4 linked regions of the Homo sapiens genome follow. The protein of the gene in region 3 purifies or fractionates together with the protein of the main gene of each other region. This does not show direct contact. Each region holds a gene or a part of one and is shown on either strand. Other genes may lie near its edges.

Evidence for each region.
Region 1: the proteins of WDFY1 (region 3) and KCTD21 purify together in Homo sapiens (affinity purification with mass spectrometry; 2 studies listed by BioGRID and IntAct, with this or other methods). This does not show direct contact.
Region 2: the proteins of WDFY1 (region 3) and CCNB2 purify together in Homo sapiens (affinity purification with mass spectrometry; 2 studies listed by BioGRID and IntAct, with this or other methods). This does not show direct contact.
Region 4: the proteins of WDFY1 (region 3) and HMMR purify together in Homo sapiens (affinity purification with mass spectrometry; 2 studies listed by BioGRID and IntAct, with this or other methods). This does not show direct contact.

Annotation. Positions count from the first base shown.
Region 1 is NC_000011.10:78,171,623-78,178,647, reverse strand, and holds part of KCTD21 (BTB/POZ domain-containing protein KCTD21), read left to right. Parts: intron 1-662; exon of another isoform or gene 663-1,517; coding exon of another isoform or gene 1,518-1,596; intron 1,597-4,064; coding exon of another isoform or gene 4,065-4,093; coding exon 4,094-4,876; 3' UTR 4,877-7,025. UniProt on the Homo sapiens protein: Probable substrate-specific adapter of a BCR (BTB-CUL3-RBX1) E3 ubiquitin-protein ligase complex mediating the ubiquitination and subsequent proteasomal degradation of target proteins. Promotes the ubiquitination of HDAC1.
Region 2 is NC_000015.10:59,100,709-59,108,160, reverse strand, and holds the start of CCNB2 (G2/mitotic-specific cyclin-B2), read right to left. Parts: upstream 3,016-7,452; 5' UTR 2,893-3,015; coding exon 2,869-2,892; intron 840-2,868; coding exon 711-839; intron 605-710; coding exon 491-604; intron 1-490. UniProt on the Homo sapiens protein: Essential for the control of the cell cycle at the G2/M (mitosis) transition.
Region 3 is NC_000002.12:223,879,326-223,886,350, forward strand, and holds part of WDFY1 (WD repeat and FYVE domain-containing protein 1), read right to left. Parts: intron 5,425-7,025; coding exon 5,323-5,424; intron 2,748-5,322; coding exon 2,617-2,747; intron 908-2,616; coding exon 799-907; intron 1-798. UniProt on the Homo sapiens protein: Positively regulates TLR3- and TLR4-mediated signaling pathways by bridging the interaction between TLR3 or TLR4 and TICAM1.
Region 4 is NC_000005.10:163,484,626-163,491,650, reverse strand, and holds part of HMMR (hyaluronan mediated motility receptor), read right to left. Parts: intron 2,401-7,025; exon of another isoform or gene 2,268-2,400; intron 1,262-2,267; coding exon 1,099-1,261; intron 540-1,098; coding exon 487-539; 3' UTR 1-486. UniProt on the Homo sapiens protein: Receptor for hyaluronic acid (HA). Involved in cell motility. When hyaluronan binds to HMMR, the phosphorylation of a number of proteins, including PTK2/FAK1 occurs.

The sequences.
Region 1 (7,025 bases), on a different chromosome or scaffold from region 3:
TCCTGCCTCACTTGCAGAATATCCAAGTGGAGGTGGCCAGGAGGCATCTGGGAACACATAGGGGACTGAGGCTCAGTGGTGTTAGTTCATTACTACCTGACTGCAAACCTCCGCCGACTCATGAAACTCCCCTCGTGTCATGTCATTTTGCCTTTTGTAGCAGGGCCGTGGATTTGTGATGATGGACACTGTGGCCCTGTGGCTAGAAAATAGGGGCTTAGACCAGGCACGGTGGCTCACGCCTGTAATCCCAGCACTTTGGGAGGCCGAGGCGGGCAGATCACAAAGTCAAGAGATCGAGACCATCCTGGCCAACATGGTGAAATCCCATCTCTACTAAAAATACAAAAATAAATTAGCCGGGCCTGGTGGCGTGCACCTGTAATTGCAGCTACCCGGGAGGCTGAGGCAGGAGTGTCGCTTGAATCTGGGAGGCAGAGGTTGCAGTGAGCTGAGATTGCGTCACTGCACTCTAGCCTGGCGACAGAGCGAGACTCCATCTCAAAAAAAAAAAAAGAAAAGAAGGGCTTAGAGGACTGAGCTCTGTGACTGGATAGGTAAGGGGAGATCACCACAGAGAGCACCCTAGACTCGGAGCAGGAGACCTGCCTGCTAGCCAGCCTCTGCCCTGACTGCCTGTGCAACTGTGCTGCTCTCCCCAGACAAATGACCGGGAGCCATGACGTCATCGGGGGCGCAGGAAAGCAGGTGCTCTGCTGCTTTTGCAAGCAGAGAAATAAGAGTTTGGGCACCTACCCAGGGGTCCCAGGGAATGCCCTGTGGCTCCTGACCTCCCCCGCCTGTAATGCTCTGAGCACTTCAGCAGTAATGCATGGAAGAGATAAGGGTCTGTGACCCATGGAACTGTCCAAGTCCTCTCTGACACCCGCTTCTTTTCCTGCCGTGAAGGTAAGCCACTTTATAGATCCTAGGCCTGAAACCCAATGTTGGGAGGGAGTGTTTGTTTTCAAGAAGAAAGAGAGACTGAAACTAGAACATGCACATTTCTATCCAGAAGAAAACAGTTGGAGTAGACTAGAGTCCTACAAAGAGGGCAACAGGGAAGAAGATTCTGGACTGAGTAAAGGGGACCCACTCCTGGGTCCACCTCCTGCCTGGGCCCTCTGGAGAGAGAATTGGCCAGATTCAGCCCTGAGTCACAGCACCCTCCCCAGTTGCTGCCTCACAGCCATCTCCACACCAGCAGCCATGCCCCCAGCGGCAGCTCGCCCACACCTCTGTGGGACCTCCCCACCGTCTCGCAGCCCATCTGCTCCAGGCTTCTACTGACGATTTCGTATTTCACATGGACTCATTTCTCCTCAGACACTCCAGATGGGGAATGCCTTTCTGCAATATCAAAGTGCCCCATTAGACTGGGGAGGAATCATGAGGGGACATACCCCTGCCCCTGCCACAGAGTCGAGCATGGCAGCTGAATATCTCTCACACTGGCATGGCCCCCATCCTCTGGAGAAAGGAGGCCTCAGTGCAGTCAGCCTCTTCAGGAGGCAGAAATGTTGAGAAGTTCTCGCCACCCCTGCTGGGTGACTTTGGGGAGGTGTCTCCTCAGACCTCTGTTTCTCCATCTGGACGGTAAGCATGCTTGAAAGGTTGGGTTTTTGTTTGTTTTTTGAGACCGGATCTCCCTCTGTCTGCCAGGCTGGAGTTCTGTGGCGTAATCACGGCTCACTGCAGCCTCAACCTCCCAGACTCAAGCGATCCTCCCACCTCAGCCTCCCAAGTAGTTGGGACTACAGGTGCTCGCCACCACACCCTGCTTTGTTGTTGTTGTTGTTGTTGTTGTTGTTGTTGTTGTAGAGACAGGATTTCGTCATGTTGGCCAGGCTGGCCTTGAACTCCTGAGCTCAAACGATCTGCCCACCTCGGCCTCCCAAAGTGCTGGAATTACAGGCATGAGCCACTGTGTCTGCCAGCCAGATAGTTTTTGATGTGCCAAGGTTCATTCCAGACCATCTCCCACATCTTCTACCTGTCTTGTCACTGTGCCTTTACTCTCTCATCTCCTCTACCAGCACAGGCTCTTCTGGGGGTAATACTGGGGCCAGTTCCTCTTGGCATCCCTACCTGCCATGTCAGGGAAGGATTGCTGAATCTGGTCCACAGGTTGGCTCTGGGGAAAGTATAGTGTTGGAAGCTGGAGCTGAGATCTCCTGTTTTCTAGAACATGTGGTGAAGGAGACTTGCCAGCCATAGATGCTGACAGCTGAGAGATTAGGGGGGCTTTGTTAAGGAGTGGATAGGGTGCCTTCAGGAGAGTGCTCTGACAGAGTCCTGCATTTGCACTGACCTTGCAGCCAGTTTCAGAGAAGCTTGGGGTGTTATGACAGCAAAGGACAGGCCACCAGGAGCCAAGAGCATCTTCATGGCAAGGCAAGTCAGCATGGGAGCAGTGAAAGTCTAGAAAGGATTGTCATTCACATGCACACGTATGTTTATTGCGGCACTATTCACAGTAGCAAAGACTTGGAACCAACCCAAATGTCCAACAATGATAGACTGGATTAAGAAAATGTGGCACATATACACCATGGAATACTATGCAGCCATAAAAAATGATGAGTTCATGTCCTTTGTAGGGACATGGATGAAATTGGAAATAATCATTCTCAGTAAAGACTACTGCAAGGACAAAAAACCAAACACCGCATGTTCTCACTCATAGGTGGGAATTGAACAATGAGAACACATGGACACAGGAAGGGGAACATCACACTCTGGGGACTGTTGTGGGGTAGGGGGAGGGGAGAGGGATAGCATTAGGAGATATACCTAATGCTAAATGACGAGTTAATGGGTGCAGCACACCAGCATGGCGCATGTATACATATGTAACTAACCTGCACATTGTGCACATGTACCCTAAAACTTTAATAATAATAAAATTTAAAAAAATTTAAAAAAAACAGGATTGTCATTTGCAGTCCGGACAGCTGAGTGACCCACTGTGGGCCTTGAAGATAGATGGAAATGACACTAATCATGGCCATTCATTGTCAAATCTTTGAGAGAGAATAATAATTAAATTCAGCAGTGTCACTGGTACAGAAGGAGGAGCACTGAGCCTGGAGTCATAAATCTCAAACCATTTGTTGAGTACTTAGAACCGATCTTTGGCTAGTAAGCATTTACACATTTTTCTTTCATATAAAAGGACCTGAGTTTGAATCCTGGCAAGGCACTTCACCTTTCTGAGCTTGAGGAATGAATCCTGGCACAGTTTTCCTCATCTGCACAACAGGAATGGATGATTATATTGTCTGTGTCAAAAGATGATACAACCTTTTTTTTTTTTTTTTTTTTGAGACAGAGTTTCACTCTTGTTGTCCAGGCTGGAGTGCAGTTGTTCAGTCCCGGCTCACTGCAACCTCCACCTCCTGAGTTCAAATGATTCTCCTGCCCCAGCCTCCTGAACAGCTGGGATTACAGGCACCCACCACCATGCCCAGCTAATTTTTGTATTTTTAGTAGAGATGGGGTTTCACCATGTTGGCCAGTCTGATCTTGAACTCCTGATCTCAGGTGATCTGCCCGCCTCGGCCTCCCTAAGTGCTGGGATTACAGGTGTGAGCCACCGCACCTGGCTGATACAACTATTATGTAAGCAAATATATGTATAAACACGTAGCATAGCTTTCAGTCCAGGCACGTTTTCCTTTCTTTCTTTAGACCAGTGGTTCTCTATTCTAACTGAACATTTAGAATCACTAAGGGAACTCTTTCAAAATACCAGGGCTGGGGCAGTATTCCAGACCAATTAAAATAGAATGTCGGCAGCAGAGGGGGGCGCGGGGGACCCAGGCTTTAGGGGTCCTTCCCTTTCTTTCCCTGTTTCCTTTTTCCTTTCCTTTTCCCTTTCTCCTTTCCCTCTCCCTAGTGAAGCTAATGTACTTTGCACAGTGTTAGCAATTATCACCCATTCATCAGGTATTAATTCATTTCGATCCCAAGGGCATAGGCTTGATGTACAATAAGGAGTTAAGGACTGTGAGTTCTCTGATAAGGTTTGGTTATAGTCATTTCTCACTTCTCACCCTCTCCAGGACTACTTCCAGCAACCCAGTCTCCTGCCATGTCCGACCCCATCACGCTGAACGTCGGGGGGAAGCTCTATACAACCTCACTGGCGACCCTGACCAGCTTCCCTGACTCCATGCTAGGCGCCATGTTCAGCGGGAAGATGCCCACCAAGAGGGACAGCCAGGGCAACTGCTTCATTGACCGTGACGGCAAAGTGTTCCGCTATATCCTCAACTTCCTGCGGACCTCCCACCTTGACCTGCCTGAGGACTTCCAGGAGATGGGGCTGCTCCGCAGGGAGGCCGACTTCTACCAGGTGCAGCCCCTGATTGAGGCCCTGCAGGAGAAGGAAGTGGAGCTCTCCAAGGCCGAGAAGAATGCCATGCTCAACATCACACTGAACCAGCGTGTGCAGACGGTCCACTTCACTGTGCGCGAGGCACCCCAGATCTACAGCCTCTCCTCTTCCAGCATGGAGGTCTTCAACGCCAACATCTTCAGCACCTCCTGCCTCTTCCTCAAGCTCCTTGGCTCTAAGCTCTTCTACTGCTCCAATGGCAATCTCTCCTCCATCACCAGCCACTTGCAGGACCCCAACCACCTGACTCTGGACTGGGTGGCCAATGTGGAGGGCCTGCCAGAGGAGGAGTACACCAAGCAGAACCTCAAGAGGCTCTGGGTGGTGCCCGCCAACAAGCAGATCAACAGCTTCCAGGTCTTCGTGGAAGAGGTACTGAAAATCGCTCTGAGCGATGGCTTCTGCATCGATTCTTCTCACCCACATGCTCTGGATTTTATGAACAATAAGATTATTCGATTAATACGGTACAGGTAAAAGGACCCCAACAACACTGGAGATGGGGAGTCCCAGGAAGCTCATGTCAGCCAGGTCTTGGAGGGCATCTCGCCAGTGGTGCGAGGCAGGGGACTATACTAATCTGTATTAATTGTGTAGCAGGACTTGATTCCCCCCATGATGAAGTCCACCTTTTGGAATCCAGTGTCCTCTGAACAGAACCACCTTTTTTCTTGCCATTTTGAGCTGCAGACAGGCGGTTTATTATGACAAGTGAAGAGTCAGCTGATGTGTACTAAAGGAGGCCATAGGAGGATTTTCCAGCCAGGACAAAAGAGCAGCAGTTTTCTCCTGGGCTCCATCTCTCTGTACCGCTAGCCAGTGCCGCATTTATCCATCTGTAAGAAGGCCCTGGTGGAGAGGATGGGATGAGAACAAGAGGCTACCTCCAGTTAACCAGGACATAAAGTCCCCAGCGGTTCCTGTCACACCTGCTCCTCCCTCCCCAGGGTGCATCCATGATCGTGGATGTTTGCCCAGGGGTGACCATGTTTGGCTGGCTTGGAATGCTGTGCATTCTCAGAGCTCTGTTAGTGTCCCCTCTTGGGGGTCAGAGATGAGGTGTGGCAGGGTCTAGAGGAATGAGTGTCCAGGCAGAGTTCAGAAGGTAGGAATGTCCCTCTTGATAGGGCTGAATCAAGGGATTCCTGGCTTTAGAAAGGGTCTGCTATCTTTGCAAAAATGTGCAAGTATCTGTAGCCAGTGTAATGAAATCACTTCCAAATCCAGCCTGTTACCTGACTTTTGTCATTGTTTTCCCAAAAATTTGAGGTATCATTGAAACAGGTCATTTTAAACAAATCTATTACGGATTCTCAGGGTTGGAAATAATTCGATGATTGCTTAGTCCTCCCCCACCCCTAGAACACCCCAGCACATCTGAAGATGAGCGCCTCTCCCTGGGTACCTGCAAGTGATCACCTTGGCCTGCTTGCATACCTTGGCTGATAGGAAGCGCGCCATCCCCAAGGCAGCTCCTGCTGTGGTTGGACAGTGCTGACTGTTAGACAGTTCTTCCCTATATTGAGCCAAAATCTGTCCTGCCACTTGCTGGATCTTGGTTGCAGACCTTCCCATTCACCCAGTTATATATCTTTGCTTTCAAAATAGTCACCTTGAGAGACCAGACATTTTTCTGAAAACATCATTACTCAGAATTCAGATTCCCCTCTGGGATCTGTCTTCAGAATCAAAGTTAGCTCTTTTCTATCCCCTGTAAGTCAGTCCCCTTTTGTTGTAGCTTCACCTCGTTTGTGACCCCCACTTCACCCACCTTCCCCACCATCTGTGGCTCCATATACCTTTCGACCATTTTCTGCTGGAAGAGGAAGATTCACGGCCCCTGAGGAGATCCAGAGGAAAGAGACGGTCTCCAAGGGTGCTGTGCAGCAAGGAGCCCAGGAGTGGTATGAACCGTAACAGTGCCCTTAGAGTAAATGTGCGGCCCCTAAGACCCTGCCCTCAGGAAGGCGGCCTTCCCCTGCAGTCCTGTGTCCCACCCCTGGGTCTCTGTAGGGTGCCATCCAGGGCAAGCAACCCAAGCACTGCTTCCCACCGGGTGATGAGCCATGCAGGCCTCCAAACTGCACGTCATGATTCATCCCTAAAGTGAGTTTGGCCTTGAGAGTCCCCAGGGTCCTCCCCCACTGGGCAGGGGTCCTCAAAGCCAAGGAAGCCTGGTGACACAGGCACCCATGGGAGGTGGGCCCAGAAAGGGGCTTCCCATAGATAGGCCCTGTGAGTAGGGAGCTTGTACACTGGGCCATGGGCAGCGCCAGTTCCCTTGAGCAGTAAAGGCCCTTTTCCCCCTACGGTGGGACCCAGGAGTCTCTCTGACAGCTTTTCTGCCAGGCACAGTGGCTCATGCCTGTAATCCCAACACTCTGGGAGGCCGAGGCGGGAAGATCACTTGAGGTCAGGAGTTCAAGACCAGCCTGGCCAACATGGTGAAACGTCGTCTCTGCTAAAAATACAAAAATTAGCTGGGTGTGGTGACAGGCGCCTATAACCCCAGCTATTTGGGAGGCTGAGGCAGTAGAATCGCTTGAACCCAGATAGCAGAGGTTGCAGTGAGCTGAGAGTGTGCCATTGCAGAGAGACTCCATCCCAAAAAAAGACAGCTGTCCCA
Region 2 (7,452 bases), on a different chromosome or scaffold from region 3:
TTGTTCTCCACAAACGTGCCCTTTCCTGTCAGCTATCATCTTCTCTCTACCCCTAAAAATCTCACTCATTCCATGAATTTTCTGAACCATTCTGTCCTTTATTTGGGTATTAAGGTAATCAACTTTATTATTCAGGGTCGTAATATTTATTTTTTTTTTTCAGAGACAAGGTCTTGCTCCGCTGTCCAGGCTAGAGTGCAGTGGCACCATTATAGCACATTGCAGCCTTGAATTCCTGGCCTCAGGCGATCCTCCTGCCTCAGCCTCTCAAAGTGCTGAGATTACAGGCATAAGCCACCATGCCCAGCTTCAAGGTCATAATGTTATTAAGTTAAAAGGTGTATATACTCATTTCCTACACTATTGCTTCAAAGCAGAGCTCCAGCTATGAATGTTCGTTAGAAGGTACAGCAATGATAAAGGCACCCTTGTAGTCTGGCTAAAAACAGGCTACCTCATTAAATACGTTTGTAAATTCAGAACTTCCTACCTTTGGAGCCAACTTTTCCATCTGTACTGGTTTGACAGAAGCAGTAGGTTTCAGTTGTTTGTTGACATTTGTTGTTTTGGTGGGTTGAACTGGAACTTTGGTGTTCTGAGCTTTCTATAAGGAAAAAGAAACATGAATAGCGCAAGACAGCCAGCGTTGTGGGACTCAGCACTATACAGAATCGGCCTCTGTATTCACATTCAGTCTTCATCATTGTTACCTTAGCTACTTGTGCTGCTCTGGTTGTAACTCTATTTCCAATTTCTTCTAAAACAGTTCGCCTAATAGTCACATGACTCTTAACTTTAGAATTAACTCCTGTGTCAATATTCTCCAAATCACTGGACACCTGAAAAAAAAAAAAAAAAGTAATGAAACCTTGAAAGAATTTGAAATACTTTGCTAATGTTAGATACTCAAATTTAGAATTGCTTTGGGAAAGGACAATACGTCAAGATCTATTTGCAAGATGGAAAAGGTACATTTCAGGAAGTCTAAAAATGCTATTTGTGATTAATAACATCACTCTAAATTAGGCAAATCACCCATCTACTTTATCCGTAATAAAGATCCTCCCACTAACCTTGCAAAGCTATTCTGAGTATTCAAGTGGGCCTGTAAGAGAACTTCAAAGCTTATTAGTATTTAATGATTATTTCTCATATAGTACCCATATCACTTGTTAGAGATCCCTGCAAGTTAAAGGCATATATTTAAAAACCTTCCTTTACAGAGCTTGGTAAAAAGTAAATTAAGATGAAAAATAATAAAGCTATAATATTAATAGTTAATAATAGGTCTGGTTGTTTAAAAACCAGATGTTTAAAACCTAAACTAGCTTTGATTCTTATGCCATTTCACAAATAAGAAATGCTCCTGTATGCATGATCTTTTAGAACTACAGCTTTTTAAAATGAGGTTGCCATAGAATGGATTTTCTCTTATATTAAGGACATTTAGAATGGAAGTAGTTTTCTTGAGTAATATAGTTTTAGCTCCCAAACTCAGGGAAGGTTGGAATTGTATGAAATAAAAATTGTCAGTTGACCTTAACCTGCTTTAGACATAATGTGCTTGGAAATAAAACTTGCTAGGAAAAGCAACTCATACCAAAAAAAGTTTATTATAGAAGTGATAAACATTTCATTAAAAAAGAAAAAAGCAAAAAACCAGCATGTCCTATCCCTGAGAGTTCAGGGTCCCGACTCTAATAAAACTCCCAACAAGGGGTTTGAGTGGATCTACCAGGCAGAGAGAGGGGCCAGGGAAACTCAAGCCTTCCCTGAACAGAAAGGTTTTGACTATTAAATAACGTTATAGAATACATTATTATAAAAAATTACTTGTCAGTTGGACTTAGATCCACAAAAGGATATTAATTAAATGCTAAATGTATTCAATCTATTAGGATTCTCAAAAGTCACACTTCAATTTCTTCCAGCAGCAACTGCCAATCTGAAAAAGTGTTTGAAAATGTAATGCTTATGGGTAGAAGCCTGGTAATGTGACTCAATTTAAATTCATCTGGATAGGAAAATTGGCAGCTTTTATCTAACCTTATAGCCAAGATGATGGAACTCAGGTGTGTCAGGGCCCTCTAGCTTTCGGCAAAGGAAAAAAGTAGGTCCCGGTACAATTCAAGCCCACAGGAAAAATACCCAAAACACCATAACACTTTGATCTCTGCAAGGATGAAATAAATGAATTTGGACCCTTTTCTCTCAGTCTGCCACATTGGTCCAAATTATATTCAAAAACCTCTGTTACATTTGAGTAAAGAAATTAATTTTTTAAGGGGACAAACCCATTTATTAGTGAACGTAGCATGGAAGACTTAGCGTGCCGAAATAAATGGGAAACTCATACAAAAAGAAATGTGAACAATCTGAAAAACAGCCTGGCAGTTGCCTGATGAAACACGCCGTACACTTTACTGCCTACAGAACCCTTCCAGTCCTCCTCCCAGCCGCCATCACAGGTCCCTTAGTTGGCAAGGAGTTGTAAGAAAGGGGGAGGGAAATCCCAGGAACGTGGAAGTAGATAACTCTCTAGCAATGAAGAGCACTCGGGGATCGCTCGCTGAGTACTAGGCCTAGTGCTCTGGGGGCTCACTTGACAGGCGCCATCTCGGAAGCGCTTTCCTACACTTCTCCCACCCCGGGGCAGGGAGGGGTTAGGGGAGGGCGGAATCCAGACGGGGAAAGGCGGGCCGGAGAGGACCGGCCGCAGGGCCAGGGACGCGGGCGAAGCAGTGAGCTCCGGAGAAGAGAAAAGCAGCCCCGGTTGGGACGGAGAAGCTCGGAGCAGATGAGAGAAGCGACAGGGGAGCTGTGGGGCCGACGGACTCGCCTCTGAGAGCGGTCCCCGGGCACACTCACCGTCGGGCGTCGGAGCAGCGCCATGAGGGACGGGGAAGGCAAGAGTGCCAGCCCGGCCCAGGGAGGGACGCGGACTGAAAAGGGAGGACACTAGCGTACGAGGCGCCGTTAGGACTGCTCTCCGAGCCCGCAGCGCTGGGGATCTTCGACGCTGTAGCCTTGTTCCAGGATTCAAATACCGCGTCGCTTGCGCCCCATTGGGCGGCCCTGCGCACGGGTCGCTGTTCTCATTGGCCAACACAAGATGCACTCTCGCACTCTCATTGGCTGAATTTTCTTAGACACGTTTGATTGTCACAACAGCCGGTTGGGGTGTTTTTTCTGCCTACAGTCTTTTAAAAAAAAAAAAACCCCAGTCTCTGAGACAAACAAAAAGGAACTGTCTCATTGGGAAAGCAGACGTAGGACGCCTCTGAATTTTGACAAGGCCTCATCTACGAATTTCTCTCGACGTTTGTAGTGGGTGGGCGGAAGTTGGTTGGCCTTTATTCCTCTTCTGGTGTGTTGGGGTTTAAGTTGTGTTGGCCTGGGTGCAGGAACCGGCCCCTCCGGGTTGCTCAGGGATGCAGTGTGTTAGGTGGTTGAGATGCAAAAGTGTGCTTAAAAAAAGAGAGAATAATGGCGTTTACTCAAAAACCCAAATTCTCAAGTAAGGCAAAAAAAAAAAAAAAAAGATAAAAGAGATTTGTGTGACTGGTGATTCATGTAAGTTCTCCATTGTATTCCCAACACCTAGTACATCGTTTGTCGTATATGGTTGGTGCTCAATAAATGTTCGTCTAATAATCAGCCCAAGCAAAGAATTCATGTCTAAGACCCCAAAAGCAAATGCAACAAAAACAAAAATACATAAATGGGACCTAATTAAACTAAAAAGCTTCTGCACATCAAAAGAAATAATAGACAACCACAGATTAAGAGAAAATATTTGCAAACTATGCATCGGAAAAAGGCCTAGTGTCCAGAATCTAGAAGGAACTCAAATCAGCAAGAAAGAAAATAATGCCATCAAAAAATGGGCAAAGGACATGAATAGATATTTCTCAAAAGATATTCAAATGGCCAACAAATACATGAAAAAATGCTCAACATCACTGATCATCGAAGAAATGCAAGTTAATACCACAAGGAGATACCACCTTACTCCTGCAAGAATGGCCATCATTAAAAAGTCAGAAAAAAAGGCCGGGCGCAGTGGCTCACACCTGTAATCCCAGCACTTTGGGAGGCCTGTTGGGCAGATCATTTGAGCCCAGGTGTTCAAGACCAGCCTGGGCAACATGGCAAAACCCCGTCTCTACAAAAATACAAATATTAGCCGGGTGTAGTGGTGAGCACCTGTAGTCCCAGGTACTGGGAGGGGGGCGGGGGGCGGGGGGCGGGGGGCCGTGTGTTGGGGCAGGAGGATCCCTTGATCCCATGAGTCTGAGGCTGCAGTGAGCCATGATTGTGCCACAGTACTCCAGCCTGGGCAACACATTGAAACCCTGTCTAAAAAAGAAAAAAAACCTCAAAAAACAATAGTCAAAAAACAGTGTAGGCGTGGATGTGGGGAAAAGGGAATGCTTAAACACTGCTGGTAGGAATGTACAACTTCTATGGAAAAAAGTATGGTGATTCCTTAAAGAACAAAAAGTAGTTCTACCATTTGGTCCAGCAATTCCACTACTGGGTATCTACCCAAAGGAAAAGAAGTCATTATATGAAGAAGACACTTGCACATGTATGTTTACAGCAGCACAATTCACAATTGCCAACCTAAGTGCCCATCGACCGAGTGGGTACAGAAAATGTGGTATATATACACCATGGAATACTACTCAGCAATAAAAAGGAACAAAATAATGTCTTTTGCAGCAACCTGGATGGAGCTAGAGGCCATTATTCTAAGTGAAGTAACTCAGGAGTGGAAAACCAAAAACCGTATGTTTTCACTTGTAAGTGGGAGCTAAGCTGTGAATATACAAAGGCAAACACAGTGATATAATGGAATTTAGAGACTCAGAAGAGGGAGGGTGGAAGGGGAGACAGGGATAGAAACCTACATATTAGATAAAATATACACTACCTAGGTGATGGGCACACTAAAATCTCAGAATTCACCACTATATAATTCACCCACATCACAGAAAGCCACTTATATCCCAAAAGCTACTGAAATAAAATTTAAGTGTATTAATTAAAAAATATTCATCTAATAAATGATCTTATGATGTATGTAAGATTTAAGAATGAAAAACAAGGTGTGACACCAGTCTTGAGCAGAAGAGTGGGAGGATTAGCACAGTCCAAAGAGAACAGTATTAATGTTGCCCTTGTAAAAAGAAGCAGGTGAAGATCAAGACAGAAAAAGAAACAGGAAAGGAAAAAGTGAGATTAATGGGAAAAGAGAAGGAAAAGAGGAAAGGAGTGATCTAACACCCATGATATCAGGTTCCATTAAGAATCTGAAGGCCTGGCATGGTGGCTCACACCTGTAATCCCAGCACTTTGGGATGCTGAGGCAGGTGGATCACTTGAGGTCAGGAGTTCAAGATCAGCCTAGCCAACATGGTAAAAACCAGTCTCTATTAAAAATACAAAAATTAGCTGGGCGTGGTGGTGCAGGCCTCTAATCCCAGCTACTCGGTAGGCTGAGGCAGGAGAATCGCTTGAACCTGGAAGACAGAGGTTGCAGTGAGCCGAGTTCGCACCACTGCATTCCAGCCTGGGCAACAGAGTGAGACTCTGTCTCAAAAATAAATAAATAAAAATTTGACCGAGCTTTCCCATCATTCTTAAATGGTTCTGTTACTTGGGGACGAATAATCAGTGTGGTTGGACGAGACTTATGTAAAGTTAAATTCCTAAATTGCCTCAATCCCTATTGGTTGGAGGGCATCTGACAGTTCTGAACTTGTTTCCTCTTAGGTGAAACAGGAATAATTGCAGCTACTATGTGAAAAGATGTTAGCCTATCCATAATCATCCCATAACTAAAAACTAGGTATCCTATGGAAAAGTCTTGGAAAAGAAAAATAGATGTTTTAGTGCACTGAAGTTGTAAAATATTTTTGCTTTATGTTGATATGTTATCAAAAGATACAACCATAAAAGTGACAATGCTTGCTTACTCATAGGGCTTTTTTATGAACGGTAAAGGTGCTTTCTTATTTATTTATTTTTGTCGGGGTCTTGCTCTGTTGCTCAGGCTGGAGTGCAGTGGTGCAGTCACGGCTTACTGCAGCCTCGAACTCCTGGTCTCACACCATTCTCCTGCCTCAGCCTCATGAGTAGCTGGGACTACAAGTATATGCCACCACTCCCAGCTAATTTTTAAAAATTTTTGTAGAGACAGGGTCTCACTGTGTTGCCTAGGCTGGGCATAGTGCTTTTATTAACCGACTTGACATTGTCAAAATTGAGTAATTGAATCTGTATTAACACGTTTTATTTTATTTTTTATTTTTTGAGAAGGCGTCTTGCTCTGTTGCCCAGGCTGGAGTGCAATGGTGCAATCATGGCTCACTGAAGCCTTGACCAGCCAGGTTCAAGTGATTCTCCCACCTCAGCCTCCTGAGGATCTAGGACCACAGGAGTGAGCCACCTCACCGAGCTAATTTTTTTATTTGTAGAGAGGAGGTCTTGCTATGTTGCCAGGTTGGTCTCAAACTCCTGAGCTCAAGAGATCCTCCGGCTTTGGCCTCCCAAAGTGCTGAGATTACAGGTGTTAAAAATGAAGATAATATTTCTTATTTTGTACTTCTCACTGTAACTAACCTAAAACCTTACACACAAACTTCTTGTTTTGAGACAGGGTCTCCCTCTGTCACCCAGGCTGGAATGCAGCAGTGTGATCACAGCTCACTGCAGCCTCAATCCCCCGGGCTCAAGTGATCCTCCTACCTCAGCCACCCGAGTAGCTGGGACTACTCGGCTGGCTGATTTTTAAATGGTTTGTACAGATGGGGGTCTCACTATGTTGCCTAGGCTGATCCCGAACTCCTGGGCTCAAGTGATCCTCCTGCCTCAGCCTCCCAAAGTGCTGGAATGAACCACCATGCCCAGCCCATCCATAAATTTCTTTTTTTCAAATATCACCCTAGGAGGCCTGGCATGGTGGCTCATGCCTGTAATCCCAGCACCTTGGGAGGCCAAGGCGGGTGGATCACCAGGTCAGGAGATGGAGACCATCCTGGCTAACACAGTGAAACCCCTTCTCTACTAAAAATACAAAAAAAAAAAAAAAAAAATTAGCCAGGCATGGTGGCGTGTGCCCGTAGTCCCAGCTACTTGGGAGGCTGAGTGGCGGACGTTGCAGTGAGCCAAGATCACGCCACTGCACTTCAGCCTGGGTGACAGAGTGAGACTCTGTCTCAAAAAAATAATAATAATAATAAATCAATCACACTGGGAAACGGAAAGTTCTTTCACTGCTGATTCCTCTGAGAATATAAATCATTTTGCACATGCGCTTCTCTATATGCAAAGCTTTGGTTTGGGGGGAGAAGTAAATGCGTTCAGAAAGCTTGTGCTAGGTATTCTAACAAAACAATGGGGCTTGTTTTACCTCACTGTGGTGGATGAAAGAGTGCCCCCCTTTTT
Region 3 (7,025 bases):
ATCAGGAATATAGAATATCTCAGTTTCACCACTGAAGAGTGGTACTTAGGCCATGCATGGTGGATCATGCCTATAATCCCAGTACTTTGGGAGCCTGAGATGGGAGGATCGCTTGAGCCGAGGAGTTTGAGACCAGCCTGGGCAACATAGTAGGACCCAATCTCTATGAAAAATCCCCCCAAAATTAGCCAAGCCTGGTGGCAGGCACTTGTAGTTCTAGCTACTTTGGAAGGCTGAGGTGGGAAGATTGCTTGAGCCTGGAAGGTGAAGGCCGCAGTGAGTAGTGACTGTGCCACTGCACTCCAGCCTGGACAACAGAGCAAGACCCATCTCAAAAAAAAAAAAGAGTGGTACTAAGTATAAAACACTTCATTTCAATTTATGTGTTAGTGACCCAGGGATTTAATTGTTAAAATGTGTGGTTATTCCTTATACTGAGGACGCATTCTGCCCAGGATGAAAAGGAACATTGGCAAGCGTAGGAATGTCTTGAGATGGGTCAGGGGTGAGGACCCAGGCCAGCAAGGGAGAACCCAGAGGTCAACTCCACCCATAGGGATATACAGGGTGCCAGACTCACTCTGCCAGACAGACACTGCAGAGGGAGGTGCCACTGGGACTGACCACCAATGAATGCATGGAAACTCAGAGGCAAGCAATTTGTTACTCAAGGTTTTAAACTGGCAATCATTTGCTTATAAAGCTTGCCAGTCAGAAAGAGTGACTGTCTCCTGCACATTCACAGCATGGTAATAGGCAATCTCAACTGAGATGCTGACAGACAATTAGCCAGCTTACCTTTACAATGCGGTCGGTCCCACAGGTCACCATCAGTCCCCTGGCAATGTCCATGGACATGTGGGAAATGTTATGTTTTCCTTCATGAAAGGTCGCTAGAGAAGTCCGACTAACAAGAGAAAAGAGATCACTGAAAATTTACTTGACTGTACCTAGAGCTAGTGGGGTAAGCTTTTTTAGCAACATAAAATAAGCAAATATGGCCAGGTGCAGTGGCTCATGTCTGTACCCCCAGCACTTTGGGAGGCCGAGACGGGTGGATCACTTGAGGTCAGGGGTTCAAGACCAGCCTGGTCAACATGGTGAAACCCCGTCTCTACTAAAAATATAAAAATTAGCTCTGTGTGGTGGCACACGCCTGTAATCCCAGCTACTCGGGAGGCTGAGGCAGGAGAATCGCTTGAACCTGGGAGGTGGGGGCTGCAGTGAGCCGAGATTGTACCACTGCACTCCAGCCCAGGTGATCAACCAAGACTCAGTCTCAAAAAAAAAAAAAAAAAAAAAGTAAATGCTTATGATAATAGTGTTAAAATTTGCTCCTAAAATTGTGGCTATGGTTTTGAAAACTAACCTTATAATTTAATGATGACAGAAAGCATGTTAAATCACAAGATTGTTTTATAAAATTCCCAAAATAACTGATTTTTTTTTTTTACTGGAAAGGCTGATACATTCCTAGATATAAAAACAAGAATCTTCAATATAAAAGAAGAACTGCATTGAATAAAATCATACAGCATGGGCAAAACATCAGAGAGCTGCCGTTTTCCCTGAAACCTCTGCCATGCACAGGAGCAGTGCCTCTTACAGCACCCGCTTCAAAGCCCAGCTGCCCCAATCCCATCACTAGTTCATTTACCAACACCAGTCGTGATGCACTAGCTTTCCAATGTGGACCTCTGCCAACATTTGCCTCTGCTGCTTTAAAAGATGATTCAAAGGGAAGGAAAGAAAATAGTGGTTCTGTCCTAACGGATTTGCCTAAAAGTCAGGGCAGAGTGGGGTATCAAACAGATGTGTCTTACACACAAAGAGCAATTTAAGAATAGACTGCTAGGCCAGATTTCTGTGGAAGAAAGAACATTGGTCTCTAGAGTTTTCCCAGTAAATTTACATGCATGTGTGAACAAAGGTCTGGGCACTGGATACTTTTATAGAGAACCAGCTCAACCACTGCCATCCACAGGTGCATGGACTTATCCCTGCATAGCAGCCAGTGGGATGCAGAGGCTCAGGGTATCCACTCAGTTACTGGACCATGTAACTTAGCATTCCTCACTGTGTTCAGGAGAAAGCTGCCCAGTCAGAGGGGCAACTTAAGATGCATAGTCATGGTCTTAAGTCATAAAGCTAGGGCAGGTCCTCTCTTCAAAAATGGCTTAGGGGCCAGGCACGGTGGCTCGCGCCTGTAATCCTGGCACTTTGAGAGGCCAAGGTGGGTAGATCACTTGAGGTCAGGAGTTCGAGACCAGCCTGGCCAACATGGTGAAACTCCATCTCTACTAAAACTACAAAAATTAGCCAGGTGGTGGGGGGCGCCTGTAATCCCAGCTACTCGGGTGGCTGAGGCAGGAGAATCGCTTGAACCCGGGAGGCAGAGGTTGCAGTGGGCCGAGATCACGCCACTGCACTCCAGCATGGGTGACAGAGCAAGACTCTGTCTCAAAAAACAAACAACAAATAAAATGGCTTAGGAAATTCAGGAGAAACAAACACATGGCTAAACATATCCTATCACTTCTGAAGCTCTTCACATTTCAGAGAACCATTAGACAGATGTAATAAGAGGCAATGAGACAAAAATATGCAAACACTCACTCTTCATCTTTGATGGAGTCGTAACAAGAATCACAAACCCGGACTTGGAACTCGAAGCCCATGACTGGGTAACTTGAGCGCTTGCTGCTGCACTTCCCGCAGACAGCCTGCCCGCATTTCCTGCAGTGATGCTTCACAGGTGACCGGGAGGAGGAAAACAGGGTGTTAGCTTTCGCTTTTTGTTTTGTTTTGAGACAGAGTCTCACTCTGTCACCCAGGCTGGAGTGCAGTGGCGTGATCTCGGCTCACTGCAACCTCTGGCGCCCGGGTTCTACCAATTCTCCTGCCTCAGCCTCCCAAGTAGCTGGGATTACAGGTGCCTGTCACCACGCCTGACTAATTTTTGTATTTTTAGTAGAGATGGGATTTCACCATCTTGGTCAGGCTGGTCTCGAACTCCTGACCTCATGATCCACCTGCCTCAGCCTCCCAAAGTGCTGGGATTACAGGCGTGAGCCACTGCGCCTGGCCTAGCTTTTGCTTTAAAGCACATGGTTTCCCTCTAAAGTAGGGCAACAGGAGCGGGGAGGATATGCCTTGAATTGCAATCACCCCAATTCAATGTATCAATTAACACTCACAAGATAGACAATTCTGACACTAGTCAAGGATTTCCAAAAAACTTTGCTGTACTGGTCAAATGTTGCTTTTCATTCATTCATATTATCTGTCTACATGTTAACAAACAATATTATTAACAACAAATTTAGTTCATTTAGGAGCCTAATCACTGTAGATTTAGGGAAAGAAAAATTTATTCCTCCATCATAAAAAAGGCATTATTATTATTTTTTTTTTCAGAGACAGGGTCTCATTCTGTCACCTAGACTGGAATGCAAAGGTGCAATGGCATACAGCTCACTGCGGCCTTGACCTCCCAGACTCAAGCGATCCTCCCACCTCAGCCTTCCAAGTAGCTGGCACTACACGTGTCTGCCACCATGTCTGGCTAATTTTTTGATTTTTTTGCAGAGACAGGGTCTTGCTATGTTGTCCAGGCTGGTCTTGAACACCTAGGCTCAAGTGATCCTCCTGCCTCGGCCTCCCAAAGTGCTAGGATTACAGGTGTGAGCCACCATGCCCAGCCTAAAGGGTTTTAAAATAAGTTTTATTTATTTATTTTTATAGAGACGGGGTCTCATCATGTTGCTCAGGCTGGTTTCAAACTCCTGGGCTTAAGCCACCCTTCCACATTGGCCTCCCAAAATGCTGGGATTACAGGCATAAGCCATCATACCCGGTCTAAAATAAGTTTTAAATGCACTATGCTCTCATTAAGAAACTAATGCCCATAATCATGTATTTTGCTATTTTCTAAAATCTCTCAAACTGTGATTCTGGAAATAAGCCTCAAGAACATTACAAAATAGTCCAATTATTATTACTGATTTTGACATATTCTTTTACCGCCAAAAGTTTAGTGACCAGCACCTCTTCTCTCTTCTGTTAACTGTTAATAAATGGAAGTAAAATCCATTTCTCTGTGTTTCCTTTAGAAGTAGGGAATACTTCACCTATTAATTATACTGCACTAATTACCATCAGCCATGCATTGTGAGAACTTGGCTAATGACAGACAGAACTCAGGTGCTATTTCAGAGCTTTATAATGGTCTGAGCACTAATAATTCCCTTCTTGCCTGCCAGTCTCATATGAGACCTTACTGTGGAGTATCTCTGAGTAAAATTTTTTAGATTTTATTTATTAATTAATTTATTTTTTGAGATGGAGTCTCGCTCTGTCACTTAGGCTGGAGTGCAGTGGCGTGATCTTGGCTCACCGCAACCTCCGCTTCCTGGGTTCAAGTGATTCTCCTGCCTCAGCCTCCCGAGTAGCTGGGATTACAGGCGTCCGCCACCACACCCAGCTAATTTTTGTATTTTTAGGAGAGACAGGGTTTCGCCATGTTAGCCAGGCTGGTCTCAAACTCCTGACCTCGGGTGATCCACCTGCCTCGGCCTCCCAAAGTGCAGGGATTACAGGCCTGAGCCACCATGCAGGGCCAAAAAAGTTTATTAACACATACAAACTTTAGGCTAATCGCTCATAGAGATGCAACCAATAATAAAAGGAATAAAATCAGCATTCTTTTTTACTTACCTGCTTTTTTTTTTTTTTGTAGAACTTTAGTATTACAAGAATCCTTTAACAGCACCTTTAAAATCTACAGGCTATTTGGAACATATTTCTTTAATTAAAAAATTTAAAAAACAGTACTCAAAACATGCTTAATAAAAATATTCCAGGTATGCTTATAAGGGAACAATTTAAAATAATCTAAAACTCATAGGGTCAGGCATTCAAGTGAGGACTAAATTATTACTTTTTATCTGTTTGTGACAGCATAAGGTATATAACTGTATGACTTTATTCTAATTTTGTTCTTGGCTAGCATAAAACACTGACTTTAATAAGTAATAGTCTTAAACTGAAAGATCTTTTATCTGTTTAAAAATAGGCTCTCAGGATTTTCTACGCACCCCTGCCTTTCCAATACAGGACAAGCAATGGAAAAGTGAGGTAACAGTCTCACTGGCCCTGGGAAAGGTCTTCCTCATTGTTAGTCACACAATGATAAAGACATAGAAAATGTAGGAATTAATAGCATTTGCAAAAACAAAGTGTGTTTCAAAAAAACCCCAGATTAAGTATGCAAATAGTGAAATACACAATCAAGCCAGAGATGACTCGACAGTGGCTACTCACTTGTCTTAGCCCCAGCGTCTTGGTGTCCCACATCTGCTTTATGTTCCAGAAAAATGGCTGCTCACATTTCTGACAAGAATCACTTTCCAACCACTGAGGAGCCTGGGGGAGCAGAAAGTCAAAGCCACCATCAGTGTGTCTATATTTACTCCCATGTTTCAAAATTAATACAACAGTTCTAGACCTTGCCAAGGTTAGTATTTCTTTTCTTCTTTTTTTTTTTTTTTTGGTCTCCCAGGCTGGAGTGCAGTATGTGTGATCTTGGCTCACTGCAACCTCTGCCTCCTGGATTCAAGTGACTCTCCTGCCTCAGGCTCCCAAGTGGCTGGGACTACAGGCATGCACTACCACTCCAGGCTAATTTCTGTATTTTTAGTAGACATGGGGTTTTGCCATGTTGGCCAGGCTGGTCTCAAACTCCTGACCTCCCAAAGTGCTGGGATTATAAGCATGAGCAACCATGCCCGGCCAGTTAGCATTTCTTTTTAATTCCACGAAATATTCTAGCTAGTTGTCATATTCAATATTATGTTTAATTGTGTGTGGGGGGGGGTCTTTTTTGAGACAGGGTCTCACTCTGTCACTCAGGCTCGAGTGCAGTGTCGTGAACATGGCTCACTGCAAGCTTGATCTCTCAGGCTCAAATGATCCTCCTGCCTCAGCCTCCCGAATAGCTGGGACCACAGGTGAGTGTCACCATGCCCAGCTAATTTTTTATTTTTATTTTTTTGTAGAGACAGGATCTCACTATATTTCCCAGGCTTGTTTTGAACTCCTGGCTTCAAATAATCCTTCTGCCTCAGCCCCACAAAGCACTGGGATTACAGTCACGAGCCACTGCGCCCAGCCTTAACTGTGTGCCGAGTAATCATGGCAATTTTAGCCATGGTTACAGGGTGTTCAATTTGTAATCTATAGATAGGAGGGAGTAAATCAGTTTTTATTGTGAACCCTTAAGGGTTGTCTTTATGTATTTCTTTTTTATGCCAAAGATGTTTGAACTCTAAATCCAGTTGAGTAGAAACCCAGTGCATGCAGCAGAATCTGGTGACCTACCACTTGGAAAGGCTTGCGGGGTCACAGGTGACTAACAGAAGAGATCTGACAAAACCCCATCACCTAGTTGCTCTGGGTAGGGACTATGCCGGCAGATTTGCCCCCCTTCCCTTCCCAGCCACAGCAGCACGTCCCTCCCTCCTGGGGCCACACAGGCATCCTGCAGCTTCACTGAGCAGCAAGCTCTGGTACTGGAACTCTTGGTGCACGTTTCTTCTCCCCTCTAACCAATGAGTTACTTTTTGGTATTATTCATCTTGATCTAGCCACAGCCTGTCACACAGTAGGTTTTTAATGCATTTTTGTTGAAACAGAGGAAGCAGTCTCAAAATTAATTTGTTAAAAAACTTAGAAAATAGGCCAGGTGTGGTGGCTCACGCCTGTCATCTCAGCACTTTGGGAGGCCGAGGCAGATGGATCACCTGAGGTCAGGAGTTCAAGCCTGGCCAACACGGTGAAACCCCGTCTTTATTAAAAATACAAAAATTAGCCGGGTGTGGTGGCACACACCTGTAATCCCAGCTACTTGGGAGGCTGAGGCAGAAGAATCACTTGAACCCAGGAGGCGGAGGTTGCAGTGAGCCAAGATCATGCCATTGCACCCTAGTCTGGGCGACAAGAGCAAGACTCTGTCTCAAAAAACAAAA
Region 4 (7,025 bases), on a different chromosome or scaffold from region 3:
GTCCTTATTTCTTATTTGAACTGGACAAGTAGAAGGATAATAGGTAGGACCAAGTGAGCATTATCAGAATCAAAGTAGAGGCAATAACAAGCCAAGGTGTTTTAGCCTAGCTAAAGAAGCTCAGACTAGAAAAGACCTCCAGGATCAAGCTGAAGAATCTGGGGTTTAGACTCTTGAAACTAAGGTTTCAGAACAGGAGGATAATAATATGATACTGACTTTTAAGTTGATGAGATGCATTCTAAGCTGGAAAGCCAGCGAAAGGGTTCAGAATGAGGTGATAAAGGTGAGCATTAGGGAGGAGGTATTTGCAAGAAAAAATAAAATGTCAAAAGACACTTTGGTAAAAAATGTTCCTTTCACATATTTAAGGATTGGCAGTTAAAATTAAATACAACATTATAAAATACCCATGTCAAATATAATAACAGCAACATCAATAACAACAAGACGAATGAAATAATCTTCAACAGGTTTCTCAGATGTTTACTTCCATGATTCTTGACACTCCATAGGAGCTCGGTAACAGTTTGTATTGCCTAGAAGAATTATTGAAAAGAAGGATTAGTAATCTAGATTAAAACGAATTTATCCATCATTATAAACTAAAAACAGGCCTTGTATCTTCTTTAAGGCAGATGAAGCAATATATTCTGTAAGATAATTTTTAGATTTATCATTTCAACCAACTTTAATTTATCGTGAAAGACAAACATTCACAGTCAAGAAATAAGAAATTTACTTCTCTAAAACTACAAATCAGAAAATGATTAAGGACCTAAGAGACATTTAGGTTAAAATGCTAAGGGTATTATAGAGGGAGTAATTTGGGGTGTGTGGACAGGGACAAAATAGTCATGCAAAGCTTCAAGGAAGATTTGAGATTTGCCTTGAAGAACAGGCAGAATCCAGGTATACAGAAAAGAAAGCGTAGAAGGAGGAAGAAAACAGTCATTGTACACAACAATCTCAGTAAGAACTGCTTTTATCAGAAGGTGTCAACAAATTTTCACAGTTCATAAAATGGATGACTTGCTAAATGCTATAAAAGCAAATCCAAAGGAAGAGGACACTTTTATACATTTATTCATGTCTTACCTTCTTTTAATGGGGTCTTCAGGGCAAAATTTTCTTTACTTTCATGATGAAAAGCCTTTGAAGGATCAAAGTGTTTGATACCTAGAACTTTATTCAATTCCTCTTGAAGTTTTGTCTCACTTTGTTTTTTTTTAGCAAGCTGACAGCGGAGTTTTGATACTTCCTAGGTAAAAAGAAATAATAGGTAATAAACAATTATTAAAGAGTATGTCAGTGAAATGTGTTACCAATGTTGCGGGCAAATTCCAAAGTTGTTTATGTATTATCACACTCAACAGCAAAAATCACTACTAGACACAGGCTTTAAGACTGAATTACAAAATGACATGAAACAGCTGTGACAAAGGAGATACAGTCTTTTAAATCTCCTTGCCCCTCCTCAGCTACAAAGCTATTTTTCTGATAAAAGTTCAACTCAAAAGTAATTGCTGAGATGGACTTCTGGCATGACAGCATGAAAGTTCTGCTGACCTGCTCCCTAGTGAAACTAAAAGTTATAAAATATTAACCAGTTAAAGCCTCTGAAAATTGACCTAAGGGAAAAATAGCAAATGAAGAAACATCTATTCAAGAAAATCTGCAAAAATTTGGTGAAAAAGAGAGTCTGCAGTGTTTAAGCCAAAACTCCTTCCCCTCTTCCCACTCCCAGCTTAGCAAGGCAAAGTCCACGCCAGACGGCTACAGCCAAAAGCACAGGGCCCTCTTTTCCCCCAACTCCGAGTCAGAAGCTTCCCTCCCAGGAGGACCAGGACATCAGAGTTTCTCATTTTGTCCCCAGCTCCCTGTGGCTGCAGTTATATCCTGGACAAATGCAATTGTGAGGTGGGGGATCCCTTCCTCCAGTCAGCCCCATTCATGGAACAGGGGCTCACCTTGGGCACAGTGTGTTGAAAATGCTGGGCCCCGATGACTCTTTCTCTGGCTCATGAGGGGGATGGTTCTACACCAGGAGGTTACTCAAGAGGGCCTGAGGCTATTCCTCATCTCTTCCCCACAAGTCCACTGAAAACTCAGCTCCTAGGGCAGAGGATGTCACTCAGAGAGAAAACTGCCATTGTCCCCAATTTCAGCTCTAGTCCTGGCTCAGGGATATTGTCGGGGGAGGGGGAAAGGAGGGCGGAAAAGACAAGTAGGCCATAAAACAGGGAGCTCCTCATTTCTTTTCAAAGGAACTGACTTCACCTGCAACAGAGCTTGGAGAAGCTGAAGCCTAAGGGTGCTCTAAAGCAGGGGTCCCCAACCTCCGGGCTACAGACCAATACCCATCCAAGGCCTGTTAGGAACCCGGCTGCAGAGCAGGAGGTAAGTGGTGAGCCAGGAAGCATAAGCATTACCCCCTGAGCTCCCCCTCCTGGCAGATCAGCTGCGGCATTAGATTCTCACAGCAGTGTGAACCCTATTGTGAAATGCACATGTGAGGGATCTAGGCTGCATGCTCCTTATGAGAATCTAATGCCTCATGATCTGAGGTGGAACACTTTAATCCTGAAACCATCCACATAAACCCATCACAAGCTGGGTGATCCGGTCTGTGGAAAAACTGCCTTCCACAAAACTGGTCCCTGGTGCCAAAAAGGTTGGGGAACCATTAAAGAACAGTGGTGGTTATAGTGAGAGAGAAATGGGAGGAGATTTAAGATACAGGCTGAACAGTAGGCTAGTTAGTTTGCAGGAGAAAACTAGGGAATATGACAGCTGGGACGAGCCCTTCTGTAGTCAGAATAAATATCCAGCACTGCTCTCGTATGCAATCCCTACAAAGGAGCCAGAATTTGATTGGATTAGTTTATAGAGCAATTTATGCCCTAAGGCACTGTTGCAAATAATCAAGCAAGGAGCCAGCATCTACTGGAGTTTACAGTCACTATGTTCACGGAAAGAGAGGAAGGCAGCCCTACCAAAGCAAGTGTCATCCCAGGGTAATTGTGGGCACACCTAAAACTGTACCTCCCTGAACAGCAACATCAGAGGCACAATACTGTTGGGGTCTGGGGAGGTAGTGGGATATGTTTCCCTAAAATAATTGAGCCACTCATTAAGCAAACAAGCAAATAAAAAGCCCCCAAAAGGAGGGGGAGCTGTACCCAGAAATGCTACAATATATGATCTAAAAATTTACTTTCCAATGAAAAATTACAAGGCATGCCAATAAACAGAAAAGTATAACCTATACATTTGGACACAAGGAGAAAAAATGTCTGAGAGTAATCGGATGTTGGATTTTTCAGCCATTAAACAAGGGCTGAAAAACCACCTATTGAGTACTATCCTTACTGCCTGGCTGACGGGACCTGTCATACCCTAAACCTCAGTATCATGCAATGCACCCATGTAACAAATCTGCATATGTACCCCCACATCTAAAATAAAAGATGAAATTATAAAAAAGAAAAGTTCTTGGCCAGGTGCAGTGGCTCAAGCCTATAATCCCAGCATTTTGAGGCCAAAGCTGGTAGATTCCTTGAGCCCAGGAGCTCCAGACCAGCCTGGGCAACATGGCAAAACTCTGTCTCTACAAAAAGTAGAAAAATTAGCCGGATGTGGTGGCGCACGCCTGTAGTCCCAGCTACTTGGGAGGCTGAGGTGGGAGGATCACCTGAGCCCAGGGAGGTTGAGGCTGCAGTGAGCCGTGATTGCATCACTGCACTCTAGCCTGGTGACAGAGTGAGATCCTGTCTCTAAAAAAACCCAAAAACCAAACAAAAAAATAAAGTTCTTTCTCCACTAAAAATTTAAAAAAAGAAAGAAACTTAAAAAAAAAAGACTCAAATTACTAGAATCAGAAATAAAGAGAAGCCATTACTACTGACCTTACAGAAATAAAAAAAAGATTATAAAGGAATACTATGAACAATTATATACCAACAAATTAGGCACATTTATAGAAAGACATAAACTACTCAAGAAGAAAACCGAATCAAGAAGAAAGAGATAATCTGAATAAGCCTATATCAAGTAAAGATATTGAATTAGTAACCAAAAAATATTCACAAGAAAAACCAAGGTCCAGATGGCTTCACCAATAAATTCTACCACACATTCAATGAAGAATTAATACCAATTATTCAAAAACCATTCCACATAGAAAAGAGGGAACATTTCTCACTCATTTTGTGATGTCACCATTACCCTGATACCAAAATGAGACAGACATTAAAAAAACAAAAACAAAGCAAAGAAAACCTACAGACCAGTATATCTTAGGAATATGGCTGAAAAAAACCCCTCAGCAACATATAAAAATAATTATATGCCATAACCAAGTGAGATTTATCTCAGAAGGTTAGATTAATATCTAAAAATCAATTAATAAAATACATCATATCAACAGAATAAAAAAATTACATGATAATCTCAATAGAAATAGAAGAAGCACTTGATAGAATTCATTACCCTTTCATATAAAAATGCTCAACAAACTAGGAAACAGAAGGGAACTTCCTCAACTTGATAAAGAGCATCTATGACAAATCGACATCTTTGTTTTTTTTAGATTGTTTCGCTGTTGTCTCCCAGGCTCAATGGCTCCATCTCGGTTCACTGCAACCTCTGTCTTCTGGGTTCAAGCCATTCTCCTACCCAAGTAGCTGGGATTACAGGCGCCCGCCGCCACACCTAGCTAACTTTTGTATTTTTAGTAGAGACGAGGTTTCACCATGTTGGCCAGGCTGGTCTCAAACTCCTGACCTCAGGTGATCCACCTGCCTTGGCCTCCCAGAGTGCTGGGATTATAGGCGTAAGCCACCTCGGCTGGCCAACAAATCAACATCTAATAATGTCACGCTATATACATCATACAGGTAACATCATATATCATGGAGAAAGACTGAATGCTTTCCCCCTAGATCAGGAACAAAGCAAGGCTGTCCATCCATTTTCATTACTTCTAAATTCAACACTGTATTATACTACAGGTTTTAGCCAGAGATATTAGACAAGAAAAAGAAATAAAAGGCATCCAGATTGGAAAATAAGTAACACTATCTCTATTTGCAAAAGACATGATCTATAAGAACATCCTAAGGAATCCACTAAAAAACTATTAGAACTAAAATGAGTTTAGCAAGGGTGCAGGATACAAGATAAATATATTAAAATCAATTGTATTTCTATACACTGGCAATCAACAATCCAAAAATGAAATTAACAATTTCATTTACAAAACATCAAAAAGAATAAAATAGTAATAAATTTAACAAGAGAAGTGGAAAACTTATACTCTGAAAACTATAAAACATTGTTGAAAGAAATTAAATGAGATCTAAATAATTGGAAAAATATCCCATATTCATGTATTAGAAGACTTAACCTAGTGAAGATAATAATATGTCCCAAACTGATCTACAGATTCAATGCAATTCCCATCAGAATCCCAGCTGGTTTCTTTGTAGAAAAACTGATTCCAAAATTAATATAGAATTGCAAGAGGTCCAGAATAGACAAAACCATATTGAAAAATACAAAGAGGACTCACGCTTCCTGATTTCAAAACTTACTACAAAACAACAGTAATCAAGACAGTGTGGTGGCACAAGGATAGATGTATAGATCAATGGAAGACAGTTGAGAGTCTAGAAATAAATCCATACATGTACAGTCTAAATGATTTTTTAATTGGATGCTAACTCCATTAACTGGAGGCAAGAATATTCTCTTTAAAAAATAGTGTGGGGACTATTGCATGTCCACATGCTAAAGAATGAAGCTGGACCCTTACCTCACACCACATACAAAAATTAACTCAAAATCAATCAATAATCTAAATGTAAGAGCTAAAACTATAAATCTCTTAGAAGAAAACACAGGGGTAAATCTTCCTGACCTTGAATTTGGCAGAGGAGATAGATACCAAGGAACGAACAAACAAAAAAATAGACACACTGGACGTCATAAAAGTTTTTTGGGTCAAAGGACATCATCAAGAAAGTGAAAAGACAATGCACAGAATGGGAGAAGATATTCGCAAATAATACATAAGAGACTTGTGTCCAGAATTGATGAAGAATTCTCACAATAATAAAAAGACTAATAATCCAATTTAAAAATGAGCAGAGTATAAACAGACATTTCTTTCATGAAGATATACAAATGGCCAGTAAGCACATGAAAAGATGACCAACATCATTACCAATTAAGAAAATGCAAGTTAAGTTAATGAGATACCACTTCATACCCACTACAATGGCTAGGATAAAGAAGTCAGATAATAACAAATGTTGGTAAGAATGTGGAGAAATTGGAACCCTCGTACACCGCCTGTAGAATATAGATTGGTATGAGCCACTTTTGAATACAGCCTGACCTTTCTATGGCCATACCACCCTGAACGCACCCGATCTCATCTGAATGTAGTCTGATACTTCCTGAAATGATTAAATGTAGAGTTATCAAATGATCTGGCAATTTCCCTCCTATTATTTCCCAGGGAAATAATATGTCCCAGGAAAAAACAAATGTCCATACAAAAACTTGTACATGAATGTTTATGGTAGCATTATTCATAATAGCCAAAAATGTGCAAACAAGTGTTTATCAACTGACAAACGAATAAATAAAATGTGGTATACCCACATAATGAATTATTAGGCTATAAAAAAAATAAAGTACTCTCCATGCTACAACACAGGTGAATCTTGAAAATATTATGCTAATTGACTGAAAGAAGCCAGTAACAAAAGGCCACATATTATTTGAATCCATGAATATGCCAGGTCCACAATAGGGAAATCAACAGAGACAGAAAGTAGATTAGTGGTTTCTTAGGGCTGAAGGGTGGGGTGGGGTGAGGAGATAGGAGAGTGTTAGGAAAAGGATAACAAGGTTTCATTTTGAGGTGATGAAAATGTCCTAAAATTGACTATGGTGATGGTTGCACAAATCTGTGAGTATACTAAAAAACACTGAATTGTCCACTTTCAATGGGTGGA